4 linked regions of the Homo sapiens genome follow. The protein of the gene in region 3 purifies or fractionates together with the protein of the main gene of each other region. This does not show direct contact. Each region holds a gene or a part of one and is shown on either strand. Other genes may lie near its edges.

What was found. The genes of interacting proteins can lie anywhere in the genome.
Region 1: the proteins of MARVELD2 (region 3) and SPPL2A fractionate together in Homo sapiens (co-fractionation; one large-scale study listed by BioGRID). This does not show direct contact.
Region 2: the proteins of MARVELD2 (region 3) and ECSIT purify together in Homo sapiens (affinity purification with mass spectrometry; 2 studies listed by BioGRID and IntAct, with this or other methods). This does not show direct contact.
Region 4: the proteins of MARVELD2 (region 3) and NDUFAF1 purify together in Homo sapiens (affinity purification with mass spectrometry; 2 studies listed by BioGRID and IntAct, with this or other methods). This does not show direct contact.

The regions. Positions count from the first base shown.
Region 1 is NC_000015.10:50,734,054-50,738,947, reverse strand, and holds part of SPPL2A (signal peptide peptidase-like 2A isoform 1 precursor), read left to right. Parts: intron 1-2,207; coding exon 2,208-2,304; intron 2,305-2,745; coding exon 2,746-2,847; intron 2,848-4,894. UniProt on the Homo sapiens protein: Intramembrane-cleaving aspartic protease (I-CLiP) that cleaves type II membrane signal peptides in the hydrophobic plane of the membrane. Functions in FASLG, ITM2B and TNF processing.
Region 2 is NC_000019.10:11,514,982-11,519,875, reverse strand, and holds part of ECSIT (evolutionarily conserved signaling intermediate in Toll pathway, mitochondrial isoform 1 precursor), read left to right. Parts: intron 1-682; 5' UTR 683-705; coding exon 706-801; intron 802-4,894.
Region 3 is NC_000005.10:69,434,966-69,439,859, forward strand, and holds part of MARVELD2 (MARVEL domain-containing protein 2), read left to right. Parts: intron 1-4,894. UniProt on the Homo sapiens protein: Plays a role in the formation of tricellular tight junctions and of epithelial barriers.
Region 4 is NC_000015.10:41,391,844-41,396,737, reverse strand, and holds part of NDUFAF1 (complex I intermediate-associated protein 30, mitochondrial precursor), read left to right. Parts: coding exon 1-251; intron 252-1,693; coding exon 1,694-1,879; intron 1,880-2,379; exon of another isoform or gene 2,380-2,633; intron 2,634-4,894. UniProt on the Homo sapiens protein: As part of the MCIA complex, involved in the assembly of the mitochondrial complex I.

The sequences.
Region 1 (4,894 bases), on a different chromosome or scaffold from region 3:
TTGCAAATCAAGATGTTTTATTGCTTGAATTTTATGTTACTTATATAAACAGTTAGGATCATATATCTGAAGACACACAGGTACTTCCCTGTGGTCTAGAAAGTAACTAGTTCTTTTTTTCCTTGAAGAAAGTGGGAGCAGGAACTATAATGGCTTGTCCATCTCCTGAACAGTCTTATTAATGGCTTAATAGAATGGAAATTTGCCATCCCTGGACAGTATACAGCACAAAGAGAAGGGAGACCAGGGTAAAAGGAGTGTACCTGATAAGAACTAGCAAAAAGCCCTTTTAAGAACCACCAAAGGCTACCATGCTTATGTGTATAGCATTAGCATAAATTTCTGGACTAGAAAACTAGGGCCTAGGATTTGTTTCATTCAGCTTTTTTTTTTTTTTTGGAAACAGAGTCTTGCTCTGTCGCCCAGGCTGGAGTGCAGTGGCGCAGTCTTGGCTCACTGCAACCTCCACCTCCCAGGTTCAAGTGAGTCTCCTGCCTCAGTCTCCTGAGTAGCTGGGATTACAGGTGTGCGCCACTGTGCCCGACTAATTTTTGTATTGTTAGTACAGACGGGATTTCACTATGTTGACCAGGCTGGTCTCGAACTCCTGACCTCAAGTGATCCACCTGCCTTGGCCTCCCAAAGTGCTAGGATTACAGGCGTGAGTTACCGCACCCAGCCTCATTCAGTTTTTGTTCAGTTTCTCTTGTCCTGTGACAGCAGTTTAAAAACTAGACCTATGATATCTTTTTTTTTGAGACAGTCTTGCTCTGCTCTGCTCTGTCACCCAGGCTGGAGTGCAGTGGCACAATCTGGGTTCACTGCAACCTCTGCCTCTCGCATTCAAGCGATTCTCCTGCCTCAGCCTCCCAAGTAGCTGGGACTACAGGCACATCCCACCATGCCCAGCTAATATTTGTACTTTTATTATTTGTATTTATTTATTTATTTGAGATGGAGCGATTCTCTTGCCTCAGCTTCCCAAGTAGTTGGGATTACAGGCATCTGGCACCACCCCCAGCTAATTTTTGTATTTTTAGTAGAAACAGGGTTTCACCATGTTGGCCAGGCTGATCTCAAAGTCTTGACCTCAGGAGATCCACCTGCCTCGGCCTCCTATAGTGTTGGGATTACAGGTGTGAGCCACTGTACCCAGCTTATGACATGTATTTTTTAATTAAAATTAAGTCATTCTGGCCAGATGCGGTGGCTCTCGCCTGTAATCCCAGCACTTTGGGAGGCCAAAGTAAGTGGATCACTTGAGGTCAGGGGTTCAAGAGCAGCCTGGCCAACATAGTGAAACCCTGTCTCTACTAAAAATACAAAAATTAGCTGGGCATGGTGGTGCGTGCCCGTAGTTCCAGCTCCTCAAGGGGCTGAGGCAGGAGAGTCGCTTAAGCCTGGGAGGCGGAGGTTGCGGTGAGCCAAGATTGCCCCATTGCACTCCAGCCTGGGTGACACAGTGAGACTCCATCTCAAAAAAAAAACTCATTTTGTTAATATCACTCATTTTAAACTGTTGTTGAGAGAGCGAGTACTAAAATGATATTTGTATTATGTTGGCATCAAACAGGTGATTTTATTAATTTAATACTCCTTCAGATTAATTTCTGTTATCAACTCTTAGTTTATAGTAGTCATTGATAGAAAAAAGAGAGCCCTCTACTTTACCTGAAAGCATATTTTAGTTTTTGGTAAGAGATTTCCTTAAATTCATCGCTATTTAAAAAGAAGACAGCTGGGTGCAGTGGCTCACTGCTGTAATCCCAGCACTTTTGGAGGCCAAGGCAGGCATATCACCTGAGGTCGGGACTTTGAGACCAGCCTGGCCAACATGACAAAACCCCGTCTACTAAAACTACAAAAATTGGCTGGGTATGGTGGCGCATGCCTGTAATCCCAGCTATTCAGGAGGCTAAGGCATGAGAATCACTTGAGCCCAGGAGGTAAAGATTGCAGTGAGAGCCGAGATTACACCACTGCATTCCAGCCTGGGCGACTGGGCGACAGAGTGAGACTCTCAGAAAAAAAAACAAAAAACCTCACGATCTAAATTTCAGCTTAGTAAGTAATTCAGGTCATCGTATAGTCACTTCATTGGAAGTATGATTCAATAAAGAAAGTAAAGAATTAATATTGCTTGTATAAATATTTTCTTATCACCTTTCCTTCTGTTCTCATGTAATTTAGTGTTTTGTTTTTTTCAGTTTATGTTATGATAGCAATTTTCTGCATAGCATCAGCAATGAGTCTGTACAACTGTCTTGCTGCACTAATTCATAAGATACCATATGGACAATGCACGTACGTATCTCTTACAGGAAATCTTATAATGTTGGTGTTTATAATTTGAAACAATACAAAAGTAGGAGTATTATTTGAAACCTATATAGTCCAATATACATTGGACCTACAGGTGTTTAAATTTAAATTTAAGTAAAATTAAATAAAATTAAAAATTGAGTTTTTCATTCTTATTAGCCACATTTCAAGTGCTCAATAGCCACATATGACTAGTAGCTACTATATTGGACAGCACAGATATAGTACATTATTCATCATCACAGAAAATTATATTGGACTGATAAACATTTTATTACGTCTCATTTGTTTTACTTAAAATCAAGACTTTCAAAATTGATATTTCAGTCACTTCTTATGACTGTGGTTAATATTTGCTACTTCTTATATCAAGTGAACATTGTACTTCATCTGCAGTGTTAACTATTTTAATCTGTTTTTTAGGATTGCATGTCGTGGCAAAAACATGGAAGTGAGACTTATTTTTCTCTCTGGACTGTGCATAGCAGTAGCTGTTGTTTGGGCTGTGTTTCGAAATGAAGACAGGTATGAATACTCAATGTATTTGCTTTTAGATTAAGGATGAATTGTTTCCTATCTTGCCCTGATACTTATTATGATTATTATGGAATTTTTTTGCTTCTATGCCAGAACACCAGTCTTGTAATGAACTACTTCTTAAATAAGCAGATCTTATGTTAATGCATTTGAACTCATATAGAGAAGGAAATATGAATTATGATTTTAACACATACACTGAAATAGACTTTAAAAATATACTTAATTTCACGCCTGTAATCCCAGCACTTTGGGAGGCCGAGGCAGGCGGATCACCTGAGGTCGGGAGTTTGAGACCAGCCTGACCAACATGGAGAAACCCCGTCTCTACTAAAAATACAAAAAATTAGCCAGGCGTGGTAGTGCATGCCTGTAATCCCAGCTACTCGGGAGGCTGAGGCAGGAGAATCGCTTGAACCCGGGAGGCGGAGGTTGCAGTGAGCGGAGGTTGCAGTGAGCCAAGATCGCGCCATTGCACTCCAGCCTGGGCAACAAGAGTGAAACTCTATCTCAAAAAAATATGTGTGTGTGTGTGTGTGTGTGTATGTATATATGTGTGTGTGTGTATATATGTATGTGTGTGTGTGTATATATACACACACTTAATTTTGGTATAGCCACACAGTTGAGTGCAGTGCAGCTCTAAACAATGAAGATCTCTATGAATTGATATGCAGGGAGTTCCAGGAGAGAGAGAAAGAGAGAGAGAGTGCAGAAACAATCAAAATGTCCATCAAACTTTGAATGGGTGAATACATTACGTTATATTTACACAATGGAATACTGTTCACCAATAAGTAAGCCATATACCACATGCAGAGGCGTGAATGAATCTCAAACGTAATGCCAAGTGAAAGTAGTCAGATACAAAAGAGAACATACTTGCCGGGCATGGTGGCTCATACCTGTAATCCCAGCACTTTTGGAGGCTTGAGGTGGGCAGATCACCTGTGGTCAGGAGTTCGAGACCACCCTGACCAACATGGAGAAGCCTCGTCTCTACTTAAAAATACAGAATTAGCCGGGCATGGTGGCATGCGCCTGTAATCCCAGCTACTCAGGAGGCTGAGGCAAGAGAATCACTTGAACCCAAGGCAGAGGTTGCAGTGAGCTGAGATCACACTATTGCACTCCAGCCTGGGGAATAAGAGTGCAACTCCGTCTCAAAAAAACAAAAAAAGAAAAGAGAGAGAGAGAATATACTCTATGATATATAAAGTACAAAAAGGAGCACAGTCTATACTTTTTAAAAAGTTTTATTTTTAATTATTATGGGAACATAATGACTATATATATTTACGGGATACATGTGGTGTTTTGATACAGGCATTCAATGTGAATGATCACATCAGAGTAATAGTGGTATCCATCACCTCAAGCCTTTGTCATTTCTTTGTGTTGGGAACATTCCAATTTCACTCTTTTAGTTATTTTTACAATATACAATAAGTTATTAACTGTATCACCTTATTGTGCTACCAAACACTAGATCTTATTTATTTTATTTAGCTATATTTTTGCACCCATTAACCATCTTCACTTTATCACCCCCACTCTCTACCTTTTTTTAGCCTCTGGTAACCATCATTCTACTATCTCCATGAGTTCCATTTTTTATTTTTATTTTCTTAATTTTAGCTCCCACGATGAGTGAGAACATGCAATATTTGTCTTTCCGTGCTTGGCTTATTTCACTTAACATGATGTCTTCAGTTCCATCCATGTCTTTGCAAATGACAAGACTTCATTATTTTTTATGGCTGAATAATATTCCATTGTGTGTATTTGTAAAATTATATATATATGAGTGTGTATAATATTTCCTTTATCCACTGGTGGACACTTAGGTTGATTCCATATCTTGGCTATGGCGAATAGTGCTGCAATAAACATGAGAGTTCAGGTATCTCTTTGATATACTGAGTTCCTTTCTTTTGCATGTATATCCAATGGCGGGATTGCTGGATCATATGGTAATTCTGTTTTTAGTTTTTTTGAGGAATTTCCATACTGTTCTTCATAGTGGCTGTGGTAA
Region 2 (4,894 bases), on a different chromosome or scaffold from region 3:
TACGTCAGCCTTCCCAGTAGCTGGAATTACAGGCGTGCGCCACCATGCTCGGCTAATTTTTTGTATTTTTAGTAGCGATGGGGTTTCTCCATGTTGGTCAGGCTGGTCTCGAACTCCCAACTTCGAGTGATCCGCCCGCCTCAGCCTCCCAGAATGTTGTGATTACAGGCGTGAGCCACCGCGCCTGGCCAGGTACAGGGATTCTTGTTGGAGTGACACAGATTTTGTAAAATTAGATTGTAGTGGCTAGGAGTGCTGGCTCACACCCATGATCCCAGCACTTTTGGAGACAGAGATGGGAGGATCACTTGAAGCCAACAGTTCGAGACCAGCCTGGGCAACACAGCAAGACCCTGGGTCTCTGCAAACTATTTTCAAATTAGCTGGGCATGGTGGCACGCGTCTGTAGTCCCAGCTTCTCGACGCTCTGGGGCTGGAGGATCACTTGGGCCCAGAAGTTGGAGGCTGCATTGAGCTATGATCACGCCCCTGGGGCAGCAGGATTAGGGTGCTGTCCCAAGAACAAAGTCTTTGAGTCATCAGCCTGTTTCTTGGGTAAGGTAAACATTGGGGCTGGTGAGTGAGCCACATAATCTGGAGTGTGCCCTCGACCCTGCGGGGCCCTTGCGTCTGTTAGCATCTGTAAGGTGCCAGGCTAATGCTGAATCTTCTTTTGGGCCAGGTGATTGTCTGACAAGCAGAGGCATGAGCTGGGTCCAGGCCACCCTACTGGCCCGAGGCCTCTGTAGGGCCTGGGGAGGCACCTGCGGGGCCGCCCTCACAGGAACCTCCATCTCTCAGGTAAGCACCAGCCAGGCAGTCTTTTGGGTAGAGGGAGGTAAGCTTGGGATTTGCTCCCAACTCCTTCAGAATCCACTCTGTGAAGCCAGTTCTGGTGAGTCTGGGCTGGCCTATCAGTGCCGAGGTCCCATTAAAAGTCCTTAGTTTATGTATGTATGTATGTTTATGTGTTTGTTTTTTGAGACAGTGTCTCTGTCACCAAGGCTGGAGTGCAGTAGTGTGATTACAGCTCACTGTAGTCTTGACCTCCCAGGTTCAAGCAATCCTCCCGCCTCATCCTCCCAAGTACCCAGGACTACAGGCACATACTACCACACCCGGCTAGTTTTTGTATTTTTTTTGTAGAGACGGGGTTTCACCATGTTGGGCAGGCTGGTCTTGAACTCTGGGCTCAAGTGATCCACCTGCGTCAGCCTCCCAAAGTGCTGGGATTACAGGCGTGAGCCACCGCGCCTGGCCAAAAGTCCATAATTTATTTATTTTTTTGAAACAAGGTCTTGCTCTATCACCCAGGCTGGAGTACAGTGGTGGAATCAGGGCTCACTGCAGCCTCAAACTCCTGGGCTCAAATGAGCCTCCCACCTCAGCCCCCTGAGTAGCTGGGATCACTGATTTGAGCCACCATGCCCAGCTAATTTTTTTTTTTTTAGATGGAATTTTGCTCTTGTCGCCAAAGCTGGAGTGCAGTGGCGTGGTCTTGGCTCACTGCAACCTCTGCCTCCTGGGTTCAAGTGATTCTCCTGCCTCAGCCTGCCGAGTAGCTGTGATTACAAGTGCACATCACCACGCCCAGCTAATTTTTGTAATTTTAGTAGAGACGCGGTTTTGCCATGTTGGCGAGGCTGGTCTCAAACTCCTGACCTCAGGTGATTCACCCGCCTCGGCCTCCCAGAGTGCTGGGATTACAGGCATAAGCCACCGCACCCGGCCGCTAATTTTTTTTTTTTTTAAGTATATGGTCTTGTTGTGTTGCCCAGACTGGTCTTGAACCTCTGGGCCCTCAGTCCTTCCACTTTGGCCTCCCAAAGTGCTAGGATTACAAGTGTGAGCCACTGTGCCTGGACCCTAATTTAAGAGATGCTAGTGCCTACGTGGGTGAGGGGATTGACTTTGAAAATAAGGATGTATGAGCTCGGTGGATTTGTGTGGTGACTGTGAGCAGCTCCTCCTGCATCTACTTGTGAAGATGGGGCAGAAAACTGAATTTCTTTCCTATACCCATAGTGACCAGATGGCGAAAGCAGATTGACAGCCATAGATAGCAATAACGATGATGGTGGGAATATTAATAGTTCCCATATTGAGCACTTACTCTGTGCCCGGCCCCGCACTATGCATTTCATTTACATTACCTCCTTTGCAGTGTTTCCCCCTCGTTAGGCATTTTAGAGCTTCCTTTCTGATTTTTACCCCAAAGTGGTACAATACTACACCACCTATATTATTAATTGACTGAAATTTCAGTTGTTTTTTGTTTTTGAGATGGAGTCTCCCTCTGTCACCCAGGCTGGAGTGCAGTGGCGTGATCTCAGCTCATTGCAACCTCTGCCTCCCGGGTTCAAGTGATTTTCCTGCCTCAGCCTCCTGAGTAGCTGGGATTACAGGTGTGCGGCACCACACCTGGCTAATTTTTGCATTTTTGGTAGAGATGGGGTTTCACCATGTTGGCCAGGCTGGTCTCAAACTCCTGACCTCAAGTGATCCACCCGCCTCTCAAAAGTGCTGGGATTACAGGCACGAGCCACTGCGCCCAACCTGAAATTTTACTGTAAATGAATGCCTTTTTTTTTTTTTAACATTGCCTTATCAAAGAACGATATGGGATGGCTGTGGGGACCGCAGAGTAGGGGGACTGAGGGCACTGACTCCATTCTCAGCTCTGATGCTTTGCAGCTGTGTAACACTGTGCATCCCACTTCATCTTCCTGAGCCTTGGTTTTTCTCATCTGTAAAATGAGTGCAGTAAGAGTACCCCCCACCTAGGGCCTCACATTTGTAAAGTGCTCAACTGTGTCTACAGTGGAAGAATATTTGGTAAATATTGTCTCTTTCTTTTGAGATAGGGTCTCGCTCTGTTGCCCATGCTGGAGTGTAGTGGCGTGATCTTGGCTCACTGCAACCTCGACCCGCCAGTCTCAATTGATCTGCCTACTTCAGCCTCCTGAGTAGCTGGGACTACATACATTCACCACCATGCCTGGCTAATTTTTGTATTTTTTTGTAGACATGAGGTTTCAGCAGGTTGCCCAGGCTGGTCTCAAACTCCTGACCTCAGGTGATCTGCCCGCCTCAGCCTCCCAAAGTGCTAGGATTACAGGTGTGAGCCACCGAGCCTGGACTAATATTGGCTCTTACTTGTTAGCGTTTTGTGTGTGTGTGTGTGTGTGTGTAGATAAACACACACACATTCATTTATTTTTTAGAGATAAGGTTTTACTCTCTCGTTCAGGTTGGAGTGCAGTGACACAATCATAGCTCACTGCAGCCTGGGATTCCTGGGCTTAAGCAGTCCTCCTGCTTCAGCCTCCTGAGTAGCTGGGACTACAGGTATACACCACCACGCCCCGCTTATTTTTTTATTTTTTCATAGAGAGATGGAGTCTCACTATGTTGCCCAGGCTGCAATGCGGTGGTGCAATCAAAGCACAGTACAACCTTGATAACTAGCTGTATATTTTTAAGATGCCTTATATGTAACCCTTCTAATTTAAAAATTCAATTTAAAATAAGAAATTTGTTACTGTGTCATCTAGAACCAGAATTTGGCTACTCTGGAGGCTGAGGTGGGAGGATCACTTGAGCCCAGGAGTTCTGGGCTGTTGTGCACTATGCTGATGGAGTGTCCTGCACTAAGTTTTGCTTAATATTGTGACCTCCTGGGACTTGGGGGACCACCAGGTTGCCTAAGGAAGTGTGAACTGACCCAGGTTGGAAACAGCAGGTCAAAACTCCTGTGCTGACCAGTTGGCTCATGCCTGTGAATAGCCACTGCACTCCCGCCTGGGCAACATAGCTAGACTCCATCTCTTAAAGGGTCCCAGCACTTTGGGAGGCCACGGTGGGTGGATCACCTTAGGTCAGGAATTCGAGACCATCCTGGCCAACATGGTGAAACCCCGTCTCTACTAAAAACACAAAAATTAGGCCGGGCATGGTGGCTCACATCTGTAATCCCAGCACTTTGGGAGGCCGAGGTGGGCGGATCACAAGGTCAGGAGTTCAAGACCAGCCTGGCCAACATGGTGAAACCCTGTCTCTACTAAAAATACAAAAGTTAACTGGGCATGGTGGCATGTGCCTGTAATCCCAGCTACTTGGGAGGCTGAGGCAGAAGAATTGCTTGAACCAGGGAGTCAGAGGTTATAGTGAGCTGAGATCGTGTGACTGCACTCCAGCCTGGCAACAGAGCGAGACTCCATCTCAGGAAAAACAAACAAACAAAACATAAAAATTAGCTGGGCATGGTGGCAGGCGCCTGTAATCCTAGCTACTTGGGAGGCTGAGGCAGGAGAATCGCTTGAACCCACAAGGCAGAGGTTGCAGTGAGCTGAGATGACACCATTGCATTCCAGCCTGGGCGACGAGTGAAACTCTGTCTCAAGAAAAAAAGAAAAAGAAAGAAGGGGCTGGGTACAGTGGCTCATGCCTGTAATCTCAAGACTTAAGGTGGCTACGCCGGGCGCGGTGGCTCATGCCTGTAATCCCAGCACTTGGGAGGCCAAGGCGGGCGGATCACGAGGTCAGGAGATCGAGACCATCCTGACTAACACAGTGAAACCCCGTCTCTACTAAAAATCCAAAAAATTAGCTGGGCGTGGTGGCAGGCGCCTGTAGTCCCAGCTACTCAGGAGGCTGAGGCAGGAGAATGGCGTGAACCCGGGAGGTGGAGCTTGCAATGAGCCGAGATCGCGCCACTGCACTCCAGCCTGGGTGACAAAGCGAGACTCTGTCTCAAAAAAAAAAAAAAAAAGACTTGGGGAGGCTGAGGCAGGTGGATCACTTGAGGCCTGGAGTTTGAGACCAGCCTGGCCAACATGATGAAACCCCATCTTTACTAAAAATACAAAAATTAGCAGGGCGTGGTGGAGCACGT
Region 3 (4,894 bases):
TACAGGCGTGAGCCACCGTGCCTGGCCACCTGTGCCATTTTTTAATCAGATGTACTCTTTTTTTTTTTTTTTTTTGAGATGGAGTCTTGCTCTGTCACCCAGACGGGAGTGCAGTGGTGCAATCTCGGCTCACTGCAACCTTTGCCTCCCAGGTTACGCGATTCTCCTGCCTCAGCTTCCTGAGTAGATGGGACTATAGGTGCACACCCGGCTAATTTTTGTATTTTTAGTAGAGGCAGGGTTTCCCCATTTAGGCCAGGCTGGTCTCGAACTCCTGACCTCAGGTGATCCACCTACCTCAGCCTCCCAAAGTGCTGGTATTACAGGCATGAGCCACTGCATCCGGCCCAGATGTACTCTTTTTAATTGAGATCTCATTCACATATAATAAACCCACCCTTTTAAAGTGTACAATTCAGTGAATTTTAGTATAGTTACAGAGTTTTGCAATCAGCACCACTCAAATTCCACAACAGTTTTATCACCCCAAAAAGAAACCCTATATTGGCTGGGTGTGGTGGCTCATGCCTGTAATCTCAGCAGTTTGGGATGCTGAGGCAGGCAGATCACTTGAGGTCAGGAATTCGAGACCAGCCTGGCCAACATGGTGAAATGCTGTCTCTACTAAAAGTACAAAAATTAGTTGGGCATGTTGGCAGGCTGAGTAATCTCAGCTACTTGGGAGGCTGAGGCAGGAGAATCACTTGAACCCAGGAGGTGGAGGTTGCAGTGGGCCAAGATTGCGCCACTGCACTCCAGCCTGGGCAACAGAGTGAGACCCTGTCTCAAAAAAAAAAAAAAAAAAAAAAAAAATGAAACCCTTTACGAATTAGCAGTTATTTCCCATTCTCAGCTCTGTCCAACCATTGACAACCACTAATCTACTTTCTGTCCGAATGGATTTGCCTAGTTTGAACATTTCATATCAATCTTTTGTGTCTGGCTTCTTCATTTTGCATAATGTTTTCAAGGTTCATCCATATTTTAGCATAAGTCAATACATATTCCTTTTTGTGGTGGAATAATATTCTGCTATATGGATATACCACATTTTGTTTATCCATTTATCAAGAGATAGACATTTGGTCATTTCCAAATGTCTATATAGTCATTTCCACTCATTGGCTGTTACGAATAATGCTGGTATAAATATTTGTGTAATATTCTGTCTTTTTAAAAGAGGCTGTATTAATCTATTACATGTATGATTAAATTTTAAAAACACAGCTTTGTAAAAACTAAATGTCGGTCTGGCTGTGGTGGCACATGCCTGCAGTCCCAGCTACTTGGGAGGCTGAGGCAGGCAAGTCGTGTGAACCCGGGAGGCGGAGGTTGCAGTGAGCCAAGATCATGCCACTGCACTCCAGCCTGGGCGACAGAGCCAAAAAAAACCAAAAAACAAACAAAAAAAACTAAATGTCAAATTTATGTATGGGAACACACACACACACACACACACACACACACACACACACACACACACACACATATATATAAATTTTTTACCTGAGAAGTTAGGTGTCTTTGTTTCAATCACAGACTCTTTGTTAAGTGTGCATTTAAATCACTTATCGTTATGAGTTAACTAAGCCAAATGTGTATTACAGTAACATTTTCCTAATCCTGGAGCAATGGAATGGTGTTGGCTAAGAGACGCCAGTACCAGGAAGCAAGAGAAATTCAGCAAATATTGAGGTTGAATGTCAGTACCATTTGGAAAATAAGCAAGGCCCACAGGTCTAAGAAGGGTGACCTAGTCTCTCAGAGGCCGTCAAAGGAGTGCAGGAAGGCATGAGGCCCCAGGAATCTGGATCAGCACAGGCTGGGAAATGCAGGCTTGTTGGGAGAAATAATGAAGAAAATCCTGACCTGTAAGGCCGGGTGTGGTGGCTCACACCTGTAATCCTAGCAGTTTGGGAGGCTGAGGCGGGCAGATCACCTGAGGTTGGGAGTTCCAGACCAGCCTGACCAACATGGAGAAACCCCATCTCGGCCAGGCACAGTGGCTCATGCCTGTAATCCCAGCACTTTGGGAGGCCAAGGTGAAACCGCGTCTCTACTAAAAATACAAAAATTAGCCAGGCATGGTGGTGTGTGCCTGTAATTCCAGCTACTCAGGAGGCAGAGACAAGAGAATTGCTTGAACCCGGGAGTCGGAGGTTGCAGTGAGCTGAGATCGTGCCACTACACTCCAGCCTGGGCGACAGAGCAAGACTTCATCTCAAAAAAAAAAAAAAAAGAAACCATCCCAACTAAAAATACAAAATTAGCCGCACGTGGTGGTGCATGTGTGTAATCCCAGCTACTCGGGAAGTCTGAGGCAGGAGAATCGCTTGACCCAGGAGGCGGAGGCTCTGGTGTGCCAAGATCGCGCCATTGCACTCCAGCCTGGGCAACAAGAGCGAAACTCTGTCTTAAAAAAAAAAAAAAAAAAAAAAGCTGGGTGCGGTGGCTCACACCTGTAATCCCAGCACTTTGGGAGGCCGAGGCAGGCGGATCATGAGGTCAGGAGATCGAGACCAGCCTGGCCAGCATAGTGAAACCCCGTCCCTACTAAAAATACAAAAAATTAGCCGAGCATGGTGGTGGGCGCCTGTAATCCTTGCTACTCGGGAGGCTGAGGCAGGAGAATGGCTTGAACCTGGGAGGCGGAGGTTGCAGTGAGACGAGATTGTGCCATTGCACTCCAGCCTGGGTGACAGAGTGAGACTCTGTCTCAAAAAAAAAAAACAAAGAAAATCTTGACCTTGACCTGTAATCTTTGAGCCAACACCCAGTGGTATCTGGTTTGTGTGCTTTGTATGAATGGACAAGGGCTGCAGCACATGGTCTGCAGTTGGGAAATCAAGAGGGTCCTGATGACAGTACAGGTTGAGAGACCAAGTCTTCCCATGATGTTTCCACACAATATCAACAACAGCCATTACCTGTGATTTTTAACAAGACAGGGCTTGTAAGTAACCCAATGGCAGGCCCACGGTTATTATTATCAGTGTATCCTCCAGTCCTTATCTAAAGTAGAAATATTAACCATATTACAAAAGTTAGCTTCTCCTTGGCCACAGGCTGAGCTTTGTCCTGGGCAGGAGTCCACAGGCTCATTCGTTTTCCCACCATGTCCCCATGGAAGCATGTGAGGCATTTCAAAGCCCAGTGGGCCTGTTTGGAGGCAGGTTCTCCCACAGACATGGTTGTGCACCACTGAAAAATAGTCACATGACTTTTCTGAGCCCATAAAGTAGAAATATTGCCCCAAACAATCCCTCTGGTCCTCACCACTCCTTAAATTCAGTGACAGACTCTAGATGGATGTTACAGCTCATCTCTGCCTGCATCTCCAGCACAGCAGTGCTAACCCCAATAGCAAGTTTATTCCTTGTCCAGGATCTGTTATTACAGATTACAATTAAATCACCAGGTTTATCTTCACTGCTGGCAAGCATTCAAAACACAAACATACTCATGATCTCAGTATGTAAAAGAGATTGAAGAATTAAAATAGTTCAGGCAAGGGGGCTCATGGCTGTAATCCCCACACTTTGAGAGACAAGGCAGGAAGAGTGCTCAAAGCCAGGAGTTCAAGATGAGCTTGGGCAACATAGCAAGACTGCATCTACACACAAAAAAGTAAAAGTTAGCGGCCGGTCATGGTGGCTCACACCTGTAACCCCAGCACTTTGGGAGGCCGAGGTGGGTGAATCACAAGGTCAGGAGTTCGAGACCAGCCAGGCCAACATGGTGAAACCCCATCTCTACTGAAAATACAAAAAATTAGCTGGGCGTAGTGGCAGGTGCCTGTAATCCCAGCTACTCGGGAGGCTGAGGCAGGAGAATCACTTGAACCTAGGAGGCGAAGGTTGCAGTGAGCCGAGATCGCACCACTGCACTCCAGCCTGGGTGACAGAATTGAGACTCCATCTCAAAAATAAAAAAAAATAAATATAAATAAAAATTAGCCAGGCCTGGTGATGTGCCGTATAATCCCAGCTACTTGGGAGGCTGAGACAGGAGGATCACTTGAGCCCAAGAAGTTTTGGTTACAGTGAGCTATTACACCACTGCCTTCCAGCTTGGGCAACAGAGCAAGACCCTGTCTCAAAAAAAAAAAAAAAAAAAGAAGAAGAAAATATACTGGGAAAAGGATATGGGTCAGTGATAGAAAAAGTTCTCAGGCCAAGCTTTTATTTTATTAGTTTTTTATTTATTTATTTATTTTTGAGACAGAGTCTCTGTTGCCCAGGCTGGAGTGCAGTGGCGTGATCTTGGCTCACTGCAACCTCCGCCTCCTGGGTTCAAGTGATTCTACTGTCTCAAACTCCTAAGTAGCTGAGATTACAGGTGCCCGCCACCATGCCTGGCTAATTTTTGTATTTTTAGTAGAGATGGGGTTTCGCCATGTTGGCCAGGCTGGTCTTGAACTCCTGATCTCAGGTGATCCACCCGCCTCAGCCTCCCAAAATGCTGGGATTACAGGTGTAGGGCAAGCTTTTAGAACTATAAATTACTGGCTGGGCACAGTGGCTCATGCGTGTAATCCCAGTACTTTGGGAGGCCAAGGTGGGTGGATCACTTGAGGCCAGGAGTTCGAGACCAGCCTGGGAAACATGGCAAAACTCCATCTCTACTAAAAATACAAAAATTAGCTGGGCATGGTGATGCACACCTATAATTCCAGCTACTTGGGAGGCTGAGGCTCAATAACAGCTTGAGCCAGAGAGGTGGGAGTTGCAGTGAGCTGAGATCACGCCACTGTACTCCAGCCTGGGCGACAGAGGGAGACTGTCTTAAAATGAAAAAAAAAACGCTGTAAATTATTATATTTATTTATTTATTAGGTTTGCATTGTCTGACAATCTCTATGCATAGGTTTGCATGGATGAACGAGGGCATTGCT
Region 4 (4,894 bases), on a different chromosome or scaffold from region 3:
CGGAAGGCCACCCTCTGCATGAGGTCTTGCTGGAACAAGCCAAGGTTGTCTGGCAATTCCGGGGGAAAGAAGATTTGGATAAGTGGACAGTGACTTCTGATAAGACGATTGGAGGCAGAAGTGAAGTGTTTTTGAAAATGGGCAAGAATAACCAAAGTGCACTGCTATATGGAACTCTGAGCTCTGAGGCGCCTCAGGACGGGGAGTCTACCCGAAGTGGGTACTGTGCAATGATATCCAGGATTCCAAGGGTAGGTGAGGCCCAGGAGCCATCGTTTTCTAGTAAACAGGGGTGAACTTCATTGTAGCATAAACTATAGAAGATAGCTTTTGTTTCTGTAAATGAAAACACCTGGCATGTTATATTTGGCACCTCACCTGTGTCTGGGGATAAGTAACTATTGGCACAAGTGTGAAGTGGAAGCACAAGGGGGAAGTGGTTTCTGAGGAGGAGGAGTTAACTTGTTTCTGCGCATTGCTTTGGGCCAGGAACGAGCATTGTTATGTTTCAGGAATCCTGAGAGGTTAGACATTTGAAAGATTTTTGGAGAGATTTTCATCTCCTCTAAAAAAGACCACAACCTCTGTAATGACCAGGGGTTTTGTAGAGTGGATGTAGGGTTAGCCTGTGGCTTTCTTTTTTTTTTTTTGAAACGGAGTCTTGCTCTGTCGCCCAGGCTAGAGTGCAGTGGCGTGATCTCGGCTCACTGCAACTTCCGCCCTCCAGGTTCAAGCGATTCTCCTGCCTCAGCCTCCTGAGTAGCTGGGACTACTGGTGCACACCACCACGCCCAGCTAATTTTTGTATTTTTAGTAGAGACAGGGTTTCACCATGTTGGCCAGGCTGGTCTTGAACTCCTGACCTCAGGTGATCCACCCCACCCTTGGCCTCCCAGAGTGCTGGACATGGTGGTGCATGCCTGTAATTCCAGGTACTTGGGAGGCTGAGGCAGGAGAATTGCTTGAACTCTGGAGGCAGAGGTTGCAGTGAGCTGAGATCGTGCCATTGCACTCCAGTCTGGGCAACAAGAGCGAAACTTTGTCTCAAAAAAAAAAAAAAAAAAAAAAGGCCGGGCGCAGTGGCTCATGCCTGTAATCCCCACACTTTGGGTGGCCAAGGTGGGCGGATCACCAGGTCAGGAGATCGAGACCATCCTGGCTAACACGGTGAAACCCCGTCTCTACTAAAAATACAAAAAAATTAGCCGGGTGTGGTTTTGGGCGCCTATAGTACCAGCTATTCGGGAGGCTGAGGCAGGAGAATGGTGTGAACCCAGGAGGCAGAGCTTGCAGTGAGCTGAGATTGCACCACTGCACTCCAGCCTGGGTGACAGAGCAAGACTCCGTCTCAAAAAAAAAAAAAGAAAAGAAAAGAAAAGAAAAGAAAAAGTCATTGCTCCATACGACCAGGTAAAGGAAATACATTCATTTCCATTCATTGAACACAGGTGAGTGCCTACCCCATGTAAACACTGTCCTGGGCCAGTTGTGTGTTGAACATTACCTTAGAAACATATAACTATGTCAGTATTTTGTGCTAAAATAATAATCACTGGGTTTATGTGCCTTCTTATGGGGCAGAAAGTCAGAAAAATGGTTAGTGCATCCTGTTGATGATGCTGACTTGGTGATGACTCACATTTTGCTAATAATGGAGAATGAGGTACAATGAACTTTACTTTCAATATCTTAGGGTGCTTTTGAGAGGAAGATGTCTTACGATTGGTCCCAGTTCAATACTCTGTATCTCCGTGTACGTGGGGATGGTCGGCCTTGGATGGTGAATATCAAGGAGGACACAGATTTCTTCCAGAGGACGAATCAGATGTATAGTTACTTCATGTTCACCCGCGGGGGACCCTACTGGCAGGAGGTCAAGGTAACAGCATAAATCTTCATTGTTTATAAAAATGAGGTCTTGGCTGGGTGAGGTGGCTCACGCCTATAATCCCAGCAATTTGGGAGGCCGAGGTGGGTGGATCACCTGAGGTCAGGAGTTCGAGACCAGGTTGGCCAACATGGTGAAACCTAGTCTCTGATCGTGCCATTGTACTCCAGCCTGGGCAACAGAGTGAGATGAGACTCTGTCTCAAAAAAAAAAAAAAAAAAAAAAAAAAGTCTTGGAGATGATTGTTACATTGTAGTTTCTTTTTTGTTACTAATCTTTCTTGGAAGGTGGGGGTGGGTGGGTAGAAGAAAGGTTAAGAGACATAAATGAATTTTGTTTCATTAATATAAATGTTAACATACTAACTAGTGAATATTTTTGATATGGATGTGGCCAGGTCCATGCTAAGTCACAGGCACATCTCTGCTCTGTGTCCAAATAGATGGGGTTTGTTTGTTTTTTAGAAGTTTCTGCCATTTCATGTCTTCCAGGCAACTCTGCTAAAGTTGGTGTCCTAGGCCTGCGTGGTGGCTCACACCTGTAATCCCAGCACTTTGGGAGGCCAAGGCGGACGGATCACTTGAGGTTGGGAGTTCGACACCAGCCTGACCAACATGGAGAAACCCTGTTGTCTCTACTAAAAAAAATACAAAATTAGCTGGGCGTGGTGGCGCATGCCTGTAATCCCAGCTACTCGGGAGGCTAAGGCAGGATAATTGCTTGAACCCAGGAGGCGGAGGTTTCGGTGAGCCGAGATCGTGTCATTGCACTCCAGCCTGGGCAACAAGAGCCAAACTTTGTCTCAAAAAAAAAAAAAAAAAAAAAAAAAAGTAGTGTCCTAGGCCAGGCGTGGTGGCTCATGTCTGTAATCCCAGCACTTTGGGAGGCCAAGGTGGGTAAATCACCTGAGATCAGGAGTTTGAGACCAGCCTGGCTAACATGGCAAAACCCCATCTCTACTAAAAATACAAGAATTAGAGGCCAGGCGCGGTGGCTCATGCCTGTAATCCCAGCACTTTGGGAGGCCGAGGTGGGCAGATCACGAGGTCAAGAGATCGAGACCATCCTGGCCAACATGGTGAAACTCTGTCTCTACTAAAAATAAAAAAATTAGTTGGGTGTGGTGGCGTCGTCCCAGCTACTCAGAAGGCTGAGGCAGGAGAATCGCTTGAACCTGGGAGGCAGAGGTGGCAGTGAGCCGAGATGGGCCACTGCTCTCCAGCCTGGCGACAGAGTGAGACTCCATCTCAAAAAAAAAAAGGCCGGCCGCGGTGGCTTACGCCTGTAATCCCAGCACTTTGGGAGGCTGAGGCGGGTGGATCACGAGGTCAGGAGATGATGGAGACCATTCTGGCTAACACAGTGAAACCCCGTCTCTACTAAAAAAATACAAAAAAAATTAGCCGGGCTTGGTGGCAGGTGCCTGTAGTCCCAGCTACTCAGGAGGCTGAGGCAGGAGAATGGCGTGAACCCGGGAGGCAGAGCTTGCAGATCGTGCCACTGCACTCCAGGCTGGGCGGGAGACTTCGTCTCAAAAAAAAAAAAAAAAAAAAAAAAATTAGCCGGGCATGGTGGTGTGTGCCTGTAATCCCAGCTACTAGGGGGGCTGAGGCAGGAGGATTGCTTGAACTTGGGAGGTGGAGGTTGCAGTAAGCTGAGACCGTGCCACTGCACTCCAGCCTGGGCAACAGAGCAAGACTCCGTCTCAAAAAAAAAAAAAAAAAAAAACTCAACAAGAAAGTCCCCATTTTGCTCATGTCATATACTTGAGGGTCATCCTGAATTCTTCTCCTTTGCCCCACATCCAGTCTATTAGCGAGTCCTGTCACCTCTGCTTCCAAAATACACTCAGCAGCTGACCATTTCTAGCCATCTCTTCTACTCCCACCCTGGTCCAGGTGTTTGGATTATTGCAGCAGCTTCATTATTGATTTCCCTGTTTGTCTTCTTGCCCCACTAAAATCCTGGCTCCACAGCAGCCAGAGTTATCTTTCTGAAGCATAGTTCAGATGACATCATTTACATGCTTGTAAGCATGTAAATGTACCTCCTAAGCATGTAAGCTGTATTAGTCTGTTCTCGTGCTGCTGCTATGAAGAAATACCTGAGACTAGGTAATTAATAAAGGAAAGAGGTTTAATTGACTCACAGTTCTGCAGGGCTGGGGAGGCCTTAGGTAACTTATAAAATCATGGCAGAAGGGGAAGTAAACACATCCTCCTTCACATGGTGGCAGGAAAGAGAATGAGAGCCGAATGAAGGGGTAATCTCCTTATAAAACCATCAGATCTTGTGAGAACTCACTGTCACTAGAACAGTATGGGGGAAACCACACCCATGGTTCAGTTAACTTCACCTGGTCCCTCCCTTGACACATGGGGATTACTACAATTCAAGATGAGATTTTGGGTGGGGAGACAGCCAAACCATATCAGGACCCTTCAGTGGTTTCCCATTACAATTCGAATAAAGTCCAGGCTGGGCTAGGTGGCTCATGCTTTTAATCCCAGCACTTTGGGAGGCTGAGATGGGCAGATCACTTGAGGTCAGGAGTTTGAGACCAGCCTGGTCTACATGGTGAAATCTTGTGTCTACTAAAAATACAAAAAATTAGCAGCAGGTGGTGGCACACGCCTGTAGTCCCAGCTCCTCAGGAGGCTGAGGCAGGAGAATCGCTTGAACCTGAGAAGTGGAAGTTGCAGTGAGCCAAGATCGCGCCACTGTACTCCACCCTGGGTGACAGAGTAAGACTCCATCTCAAGAAAAAAAAAAAAAAAAAAAAAGAATAAAGTCCAAACTCCTGCACATGGCCTATGGGCCTACAATATCGGACCCCTGTCTTCATCTTCCATCTCTCCTCCTGTCTTCATCTTCCATCTCTCCTCCTACCTCCTTCCTCCACACCAGCCCCTTTTCTGTCAGATTTAACAACCTCATTTCCATCTCAGAGCTTTGCACTTAGTGTTGCTCTGCTGTAATGCTCTGCCCCCATGTCTTCACCTGCTT